Linked DNA regions of Homo sapiens. The protein of the gene in region 2 purifies or fractionates together with the protein of the main gene of each other region. This does not show direct contact. Each region holds a gene or a part of one and is shown on either strand. Other genes may lie near its edges.

Evidence for each region.
Region 1: the proteins of TBRG1 (region 2) and GRTP1 purify together in Homo sapiens (affinity purification with mass spectrometry; one large-scale study listed by BioGRID and IntAct). This does not show direct contact.

What each region holds. Positions count from the first base shown.
Region 1 is NC_000013.11:113,360,763-113,365,844, reverse strand, and holds the start of GRTP1 (growth hormone-regulated TBC protein 1), read left to right. Parts: upstream 1-1,714; 5' UTR 1,715-1,793; coding exon 1,794-1,825; intron 1,826-1,934; coding exon 1,935-2,083; intron 2,084-3,976; exon of another isoform or gene 3,977-4,286; intron 4,287-5,082. UniProt on the Homo sapiens protein: May act as a GTPase-activating protein for Rab family protein(s).
Region 2 is NC_000011.10:124,631,890-124,636,426, reverse strand, and holds the end of TBRG1 (transforming growth factor beta regulator 1), read right to left. Parts: intron 4,335-4,537; coding exon 4,189-4,334; 3' UTR 501-4,188; downstream 1-500. UniProt on the Homo sapiens protein: Acts as a growth inhibitor. Can activate p53/TP53, causes G1 arrest and collaborates with CDKN2A to restrict proliferation, but does not require either protein to inhibit DNA synthesis. Redistributes CDKN2A into the nucleoplasm.

The sequences.
Region 1 (5,082 bases), on a different chromosome or scaffold from region 2:
CAGGAATTAGGGAAAAGGGGAGCCGTGAGGCTTCCAGGCCTGGGGTTGGAACAGAAGCTGCGCGGTGTGGGGCGATTTGGGCGCAGGACCCCGGGTGCTGGGAAGTGGGGAGCAGGACTGTGTCTGTTGCTCCAGAAAGCGCGAGGGATGCGATATAGGAAATTCGGGCGTCAGTTAGAGCCCGAGAGGGGTTCAGGGAGTCACTGACTTAGGCAGAGAGGAGCCCAGACGGGGTTCGAAGACCCTGGGGACGGACGCCCACCTGTCAGTCCTGGACTGTGGGGCACCCGTAGGCCGAGGGGCAGGAGGCTATGGCCCTGTCTCCTGGCTTGGGTCTAAACATCCCAAGGAGGTCAGACCGTAGAGTGGGGGCTGTGTGATCTTTCAAATGAGGGACGCCGCGTGTTACCAAAGGCCAGTGCTGAGGAGCTGGGCTGAAAGCTTGGGGAGTTCCCAGAACCAGCAGACTAGGAACGGGAGGAACCGTGTCGGGGGCTCTGCTCCGCTGGGCACTGACCCCCACCCCGCCCCCCGGTCTTGCAAGGGCTGGAGAAGGGTGAAAGGCAGAGGCGGGAGTCCGCACTTAGGGACCGGTCCGTTCCACACGCTGCTGACCAGGCTCCTGGGTGGCGCTCGCATGGAACATTCCGGAAACACCCATGGGAAGGTCCCAAGTTGGTTCCGAAAGGCCCTGACGGACGCGCAGGGGACGCTGAGCCTGTGATCCTCGCCTCACCCAGACGAGGCCGGGCTGCTTCTCACAGGAAAGTGCGTCTGGAGTCCGGGGACGGCCTCCTCCTGGGGCCTGTCCAGGTCGCCCTGGGCCTAAATTACAGGCGGGGAGAGGCCTGTCGGAGGAGCCCCCGCTCCAGACCCCTGGGGGACCCAGGGCGAGGTCGCCCCAGCGCCTCACGTCTGGGGGCTCCCCTTTGCCACGTCGCCAGAGCAAAATTCAAAATCTGCAGTTCTGGCAAATTTCCGGGGCCTCCCGGACACGAAAAGCAGCTGAAATCTCAGGACAATGTCATTGGATGCGGACCGAGAAGAAGCCGTTCGGAACCAGAGCTGCCCCGGATTCTCCCAGGCCTGGCTCGCCGGTGGGGGGACCCCGGTCCCTGGTTTGGGGGGGCAGGAACGGGCGGGCGCCCCTGGGGGCTTCTCATTTGTGTGTTGGTCTCGGCCTTGAAATGCAGCGGAGAAAATAAAAAATAAAATAAAAATAGGAGTCAGGTGTCAGAGTCGGGTCGGCCAGGCACTGAGGTTTGAAGGAATCGCAGAAGAAGCTCCTCTCACCCGGGTCCAGGCCGCGGGGGTTCTGCGGGAGGCGCCCCCGATTCTGCCCGCGGGACGCCGCGGCCTCGGAAGCCCCGGGAGCAGGCCCCGCCCCGCCCCCACCCTCCTCTCTCCCCAAGTCCTCCCGCCCCCCCAGCCCCGCCCCTCCCCCGCCCTGGGTGCTCCCCTGCCCCTCCCCCGGCCCTCCCCCGCCCCTCACCCGCTCCTGCCCCTCCTCTCTCCCCAGGTCCTCCCGCCCCCAGCCCCGCCCCTCCCCCGCCCTGGGTGCTCCCCTGCCCCTCCCCCGCTCCTGCCCCTCCTCTCTCCCCAAGTCCTCCCCGCCCCCAGCCGCCCCTCCCCCCGCCCTGCCCCCCCCCGCCCCCGCCTCCAGCCCCGCCCCTCTCCGCTCCCCGCCCCGCCCCCACGCGCCCGCGGTCCCGCCGGAAGGACTTAAGCGCCCCGGAGCCGGGAGGCGAACTTGGGACCCGCTGGCCTCGCTCGGTGCGCGCCTCCCTCCCCGCATGCAGCCCGCCGAGCGCTCGCGGGTCCCCAGGTGTGTGGCGCGGGGTGCGGGCGTCCCCGGCGGCTGCGGTCCCCGCGCGGGCCCGCGACCCCCCAGAGGAAACTTCGGGGACGCCGGCCTCCTTCTCTCGGTTTTGCAGGATCGACCCGTACGGATTCGAGCGGCCTGAGGACTTCGACGACGCCGCCTACGAGAAGTTTTTCTCCAGCTACCTGGTCACGCTCACCCGCAGGGCGATCAAATGGTCCCGGCTGCTGCAGGGCGGGGGCGTCCCCAGGAGCCGGACAGGTGGGTCCCGGGGGCGCAGGTGGGTCCCGAGGGCGCAGGTGGGTTGGGCTGGGACGGGCCGGGCAAAGTCCGGGCTCCCGGAGCGGAGGGAGGGGGAGGAACCTTTCCGGGCAGGTCGGGACGAAGCTGCGGGCTCCGAGCTAGGGCAGCCGCAGGGACCGGTTTTCCCGCTTTGAGATGGGCCGGCGGGTCGGACGCGAAGGAGACCCGTCCCTCCCAGCAGGGAGCCATATCGGGATGGATCAAAACTCGATCCATGCCGGGCGCGGTGGCTCACGCCTGTAATCCCAGCGCTTTGGGAGGCCGAGGCGGGCGGATCACGAGGTCAGGAGTTTGAGACCAGCCTGACCAACATGGTGAAACCCCGTCTCTACTAAAAATACAAAATTAGCCGGGCGTGGTGGCTCCTGCCTGTAGTCCCAGCTACTCTGGAGGCTGAGGCAGGAGAATCGCTTGAACCCAGTAGGCGGAGGTTGCAGTGAGCCGAGATTGCGCCATTGCACTCCAGCCTGGGCGACAGAGCGAGACTCCGTCCTTGTGACGGGACCCACAGGGCCCTGCTCGACCTGCCGCTCCTCCGCGACCCCAGGCCTCCTACTGCTGCGGTGAGCACCGGCCTGACCGCCCGCCCGCCTCGGGGTTAGCTGCAGGGCCCCCTCCTCCGGGGCGCCCCAGGCTTCCCTGTGCGGAGGGCACCTCCTCATTTCTGCCTTTCCCAGCACAGCCCCTGCTGGAGTCAAAAACCCTTCCTCCCTGCAACGGATTTTTCATTCACTGCTCAGTCCTCAGAACCTGGGGCAGTGCCAGGCGACTTCCCTGTGTGTTCAGTGAATGAATGAAGTGTCTGCCTGGGGTGAGGGCTTGGTGGGAGTGTGCCCTGGAGCTAGGAACTCAGAGAAGTGGGGTCAAAGGGGAGTCCTGGGGGCTTCCTGAGAAGGGGGATGTGAATGGCAGCTGGGCTTCCAGGGACCGAGCAGTAGGGACCTGGTGGGGAAGGACAGAGATGAAACCAGGGGCCCTGCACCTGGGCGGAGGGTCGGAGGTGTGTGGTGACCACGGCCAGGCACAGAGAAGCCAACTGTTAAAGGTTTTCCAGGCAGGGGGTGACAAGATCAACTTTTGCTTTTATTTATTTATTTGAGACAGGGTATCCCTCTGAGTGCAGTGGCACAATCACCACTCACTGTAGCCTTGACCTCCTGGGCTCCAGCCATCCTCCCCTCTCAGCCTCCCGCATAGCTGGGACCACTGGTGTGGCCACCACTCCTGGCTAATTTTTAAATTTTTTATAGAGATGGAAGTTAATATCCTATATGCTTCCCACGAATGCATCATGTCCCATCCCTGTGGCCTCTGCATGTTCACATGTTTCCAGTGGAACGTGTGTCTTTATTTTTCCTTTTCATTTATTCTTTTTGATTTATTTATTTTTGAGACAGAGTCTCACTCTGTCGCCCAGGCTGGAGTGCAGTGGTGCGATCTCAGCTGACTGCAACCTCCACCTCCTGGGTTCAAGTGATTCTCCTGCCTCAGCCTCCTGAGTAGCTGGGATTACAGGTGCACACCACTACACCTGGCTAATTTATTTTTTATTTTCTTATTTTTTTTATTTTGAGACGGAGTCTCACTCTGTCGCCCAGGCTAGAGTGCAGTGGCATGATTTCAGCTCATTGCAACCTCTGCCTCCTGGGTTCAAGCGATTTTCCTGCCTCAGCCTCCCAAGTAGCTGGGATTACAGGCACCTACCACCACGCCAGGCTAATTTTTCTATTTTTTAGTAGAGATGGGTTTTACCATATTGGCCAGGCTGGTCTCAAACTCCTGACCTCAAGGGATCTGCCCACGTTGGCCTCCCAAAATGCTGGGATTACAGGCATGAGCCACTGCGCCTGATTTATTCTTAAAAGTTAACTGTCTTTTAATTTTAAAAAGTAACGTAAAAGTATATAAGACATGTGAACTTAAAAAGCATAATTTATGTACATGGTAAACACTTTAATCATACTGAGGGCTACAAAGTGCAACAGGGAGTTTCTCTCCCACCCATGGCCCCCATCTCCTATAGAGATGACCGCAGGGGACTGTCCTTCCGTCCCCCTCAGGAGCAGAAGTCCACGCTTGGTTCTGCAGTTTGCTTTAAGAGCAGGGGAAGTCCGTGGGAAGTCCTGTGGCTGTGACCTGGAGGTTGGTTACAGCGGAGAATCTGAAAGATGTATGGTTGTGCATAAATTTTTGTTTTTACAGAAAACACAACTGCACAGTCATTCTCCCGTCTTTGCCTTTGCCATTTGGGTCTGTCCTATTGCTGTCCTTTTCTTCGACCAGGAGCTGCTAACTTGGGTTCCATATTTTCCTTTTTAGGGAACCACTCAGCACATTGCCCCCACTTTCCAATATGGACTTGGGAGGGGGTTCTGGGAAGAGCAGGGAAAAGGAAAAGAGCAATCCGGATGCAAAATCCTCCAGATTTTTATTCTTTTCCCCACTCCTTTGCAATTATTTTACACCTAAGTCAACAGTTTTGTTTTTGCTTTTTTTTTTTTTTTTTTTTAGCATTGGTCTCTATCAACTCTTTCTAAAAATTTCATTTTGTTTTTATTGAAGTAACAACTTTCTTCTTTTTGCTTTAATTTTTTTTTTTTTTTTTTTTTTGAGTCAAAGTCTAGCTCTGTCAGCCTGGCTGGAGGGTAGTGGCGCAATCTCGGCTCACTGCAACCTCTGCCTCCCAGGTTCAAGCAATTCTCCTGCCTCAGCCTCCTGAGTAACTGGGATTACAGGCACTCGCCACCATGCCCGGCTAATTTTTGTGTTTTTAGGAGAGATGGGTTTTGCCTTGTTGGCCAGGCTGGTCTCGAACTCCTGAGCTCCAGTGATCCGCCCACCTCAGCCTCCCAAAATGCTGGGATGACAGGCGTGAGCCACCATGCTGGGCTAATTTATGTAATGTTAAGTGGACCATGTAATTATGGTAGCAAGCATCACTGGCATAAATGGGTCTG
Region 2 (4,537 bases):
AATCTCTCTATGAACTTTCCATTCAAAACTTTCCAAGTTTTTCCTTATGTGGAACCGAAATCTTTCTTTCTCCCGTGAAACTTTACTACTATCAGATAATTGAAGACAGATCTCTTTGTATTCTCTTCAAGCCCAAACCAATTCTGTTCCTTCAATCTAAATAGTGGTAATATGAATGTTTAAGAAATGAAATAAGAAACATGTGCAGGCACTTTGGAAGGTGCTAAGTGACTGCCCTAAGGAATGAAAAGCAAGGGCCAGGTGGGAGTAGCCCAGCGAAGGCACTTGGGCTGCCAGGAACAGGAGGCGTGGGAAACTCTGGCTTAGGAAAACATGAACACAGGGGCAACAGAGGCAAACTGTTGTTCGAGTTAAATATAAATCTCAGGCTCTTTAAAGGTAAAAGGTTTAAGGATAATCCATTTGGAAGAAGAAAAGAGTGAGGCTGAAAGTAAAGCCACATGACAAGCATATAAAAAAAAATGCAGATGATACAAATATGAAAGAGGCCTTCAGTGTTTGTTTATTAAGAATCTTAATGCAGTTTACTGATGGATTAAAAACAGCTAACATTGTCTGAAAATTATGTTACCTATAAGAAGTTGGAAATAAATAAAAGCATAATCACTAGTGATGTGTATGTATTTATATCCACTTGCAAACTGTCCTTGAAGCATGTGAAAAGGAGTAAGAATACTATCTATGGGTAGCTTTCCTCCCCTTAATGTGAAAAATGAGAACTAAAGCAAAAAGCATCACTCACTGTACATATACAATGTATTTTACGTAGTGTAAAAAATATGGTTTAGATAGTGAATATATTAATGAAATCATATGTAAATTTATTTTTAGTGGCTGAATAATTTAAAACATTATGTGGAATTCACTATGTTTCCCCCAATTTAGGAACTTTTTACTGTGTGAAAATGAAATTTATAATACTCTGTAGGGTGAATGATGGTTTTTGCTTTAGTTCTACCCCTCTGTAGAGTTCCAAGGGGTTCTGGTGTAGCTCCAAACAGCAGGAATAACTTTGTCAGTGCCAAGATTTTATTTAGTTAAAAAACAAAAAATCTACACACTTTACAAGGAACGTTGGCTCCCCTGAGGACTTCCTAGCATTCAACTCGTTCAGTTAACCCCTATTGCCCATGCTTTGACCTCTCATGCATCTGGCCCCATAGAAACCATGAACCTTGTAACAGATTGATGCCTGAGAAAAAGTCAATCTACCCGTCCACTCCTCCACTCCCAATACACATACCCCCATGGGCTGTTCTAATTCGGGGGCAGCCAGAGGTAGCCAAGAACTCTAAGTCCAGATTCCTTTCACCTCCAGGAACCTAGAGTACATAGTGTGAAAAATACGGTTCAGGCAATGATTATGTTAATGACGCCATGCACATTCATTTTTAGTGGCTGAGTAATTTAAAACATGATGTGGGAATTCACTGCATTTCCCCAAATGTAAGAACTTTTTAGTTTTAAAATGAAATTTATAGTCACTGTAGAAAATTTGGACACTAAAGTATAAGCAAGTAAAAATCACCCCCAAATTCATCATTCAGAGAAACACTATTTTGCTGAACCATTCACTTGACTTGAGTTATATAATTTTATACAGTACATATTATTTTGTAATCTGTGTTTTTGACTTACTTACTTTACCAAAATAATTTTCTTATGTAAATAATAGAATATAGATTTAGAGTGTTTCAGTTTGTGGAAGCCTCATTTTATTTAACCAATTTCCTATTAATGGACATATAGATTTTTAACAATTTTCTACTATTAAAATAATACTGTAATGAATATCACATGCAAACATCATACCACACTCGTCCAGTTATTTCTTAGGGTTCTTAACATGGAAGAGGATAAATATATATTTAAAATTTAGATATCTACAGCTTAACCCTCCCAAAGGATTAAACAACTTACATTCTCACCAAGGTAGTCCTTTTTTTGCCCTCACCCTCATTGACACTGGATGTTGTCAAATTTAAAAAAAATCCTTAACAATCTGATAGATGAAAAGATAGTTTAAGTATACTAAGGCAGTGTTTTTCAAGGTGTTTTTGTTTTTGTTTTTGAGTTGGAGTTTTGCTCTGTTGCCCAGGCTGGAGTGCAGTGGCGCGGTCTCGGCTCACTGCAACCTCTGCCTCCCGGGTTCAAGCGATTCTTCCTGCCTCAGCCTCCCGAGTAGCTGGGACTACAGGCGCGTGCCACCACGCCTGGCTAATTTTTTGTATTTTTATTAGAGACCGACTTAGCCAGGATGGTCTCGATCTCCTGACCTCTTGATCCACCCGCCTCAGCCTCCCAAAGTGCTGGGATTACAGGCGTGAGCCACCGTGCCCAGCTTTTCAAGTTTCTTAAATCCATGATCCATAGTAAAAACATTTTACACATATCTTCATACAAGTATATGTATATGTGGTATACGTACACACTATAGTTGTATATGCATTATAGCTGAAAAACCAGTTCAACCTTTCTACATGTGGTATGTTCCAAAAATTTTAAATGTCTTTCTAAAATGAGGCTCTTTTAATACGGGTATTACTCAGGCTGTAATAGTGGGAAAATATTTGTTATATGATAAAAGCAGCATATATCATTTCTGTGTAAATGCCAGTATGCTCAAGCCATTTATGCAGAGAAAAAAAGAAAAACACTGCATTAACATTTTAAGCAGTCCCCTTCCCGATTTGCTATTATACAAAGTTTGTTTCTTTTACATTGTAAAGTGTATACAACTTATAAAAAGACTATACTCAAAATCATAAAATACCAGTTAACTTAGCTTCTCAGTTTACAGTGGCCAGTGTGGTGTGCTCTAAACACTGCTGCCTGATCCCTCCCTCTGCTGGTCAGATTTATTACTATAAAGTACCAATCCCATTTGTGTTGTCCTCAATTGGCAATTATGAATGGCAGTGCATTAACCATTCAATTCTCACCACTCCATCCCCATTCTTCTACTTCTGGGTCCTTTTGTCCCTCCCTTTCCAGACAGCCCTTGGTAACCTGCTGCTGGGTAACTAAGGCATCCCACAGGTAGTGTTGAGGTGTTAGGTGATAGAGTAAACCTCTACCTTAATGCTATTAACAGGGTCCAAAAATCCAGTTGCATGGAACATGGAGTTATATTATTACATGGCTAATGAAAAGACAGGACTAAGTCTGTTATAGAGTATGGGACTAACCCCCAATTATATGTGAATTTGTGTTATCATATGGTTTCAGTGTACTGAGCTAAAAAGCACATTATCTGAGGTGCAATACAAAGGTTAAAGAGGTTAAAGATCCCCTTGAAGGATGTGCAAAATGTGAAGAAAAAGATGAACAGTGTACCTTGGACTGGACTTTCCATCTTGAGTTTAAGCAGAACATTGGATTTTGATGATACTGACATGAAAATTAAGCAGCAGCCTGGGTTGCAGGGGCTGGGACTTGATATTCCTTGAATTAGGATCACAATCAAGAGTAGAAGTTTGTCAGAATCTCCCTATCTCCCTCGTTAGTCAGCTGCTGCTACTACAGACTTAATGTTTATATGTCCCCAAAATTCATGTTAAATCCTAACCCCTAATGTGATGGTATTGGGAGGTGGGGCCTTTGGGAGGTGATTAGGTCATGAGAGCAGACCTCTCATGAACCGGCTTAGTGATCTTATAAAAGGGACCCCGGAGAGCTGCCTTCCTCTTCTACCACGTGAGGACACTGCAGGAAGACAGCTGTCTAAGAACTAGGAAGTGGGCCCTCACCAGACATTGAATCTGCGCTCCTTGAACTTGGACTTCCCAGCATCCAGAACTGTGAGAAATAAATTCATGTTATTTATAAACCAACCTGTCTATGGTATTTGTTGTAGCAGCCTGCAGCTCTCTATCACTCTTGTTTATAAGAGGCTGAAGTTTACTTTACCTCAGGCAGAGCTAAGCAAAAAAGATTACATCCCGATTACAAGATGAAAGTAAACAGAATTGACAAGAGAAATTTATTACTAAAAATAAAGCAGCTGAAGGTTTTCCCAGGGAAAACCATCACCACAGGACCTTCCATGATGAAATACGTTAGTATCTTCTTTACTTCTGAATTGCTGCCTTCTTTCATATACCCAAAATTTTAGTTTAAGTTAAATTAATCACGACAAAAACGATGTGGCATCTGATCCCTTCTTGTTCAATCTGAAGACTGAATTGGGCTACCCTGTGATGGAGACTTCAAGTGCTGCAGGTGAGTATCTACCAAGGGTTCATGTGTCAGGTACATGGGCTGGTAAGAAGACACAAAGGCTGCAGGCTGAAGCTCTGGGAGGTCCAAGGATCCTGGAGAAAACAATTCCTTAAGTTCCACTGCTGCTCGGGAGTCTGGGCAGACTGTTTTGGTCAGACATATACATGTCCTTTCAATCAATTCCTTAACACCCTTGCATTTGTCAGCTCAATTTTGCCTTTGTTAAGATAGGACAGATACTTTTACAATGAAAACTGGTTGAAACATTAAGTGACTTGCCTAGGGTTATATAGTA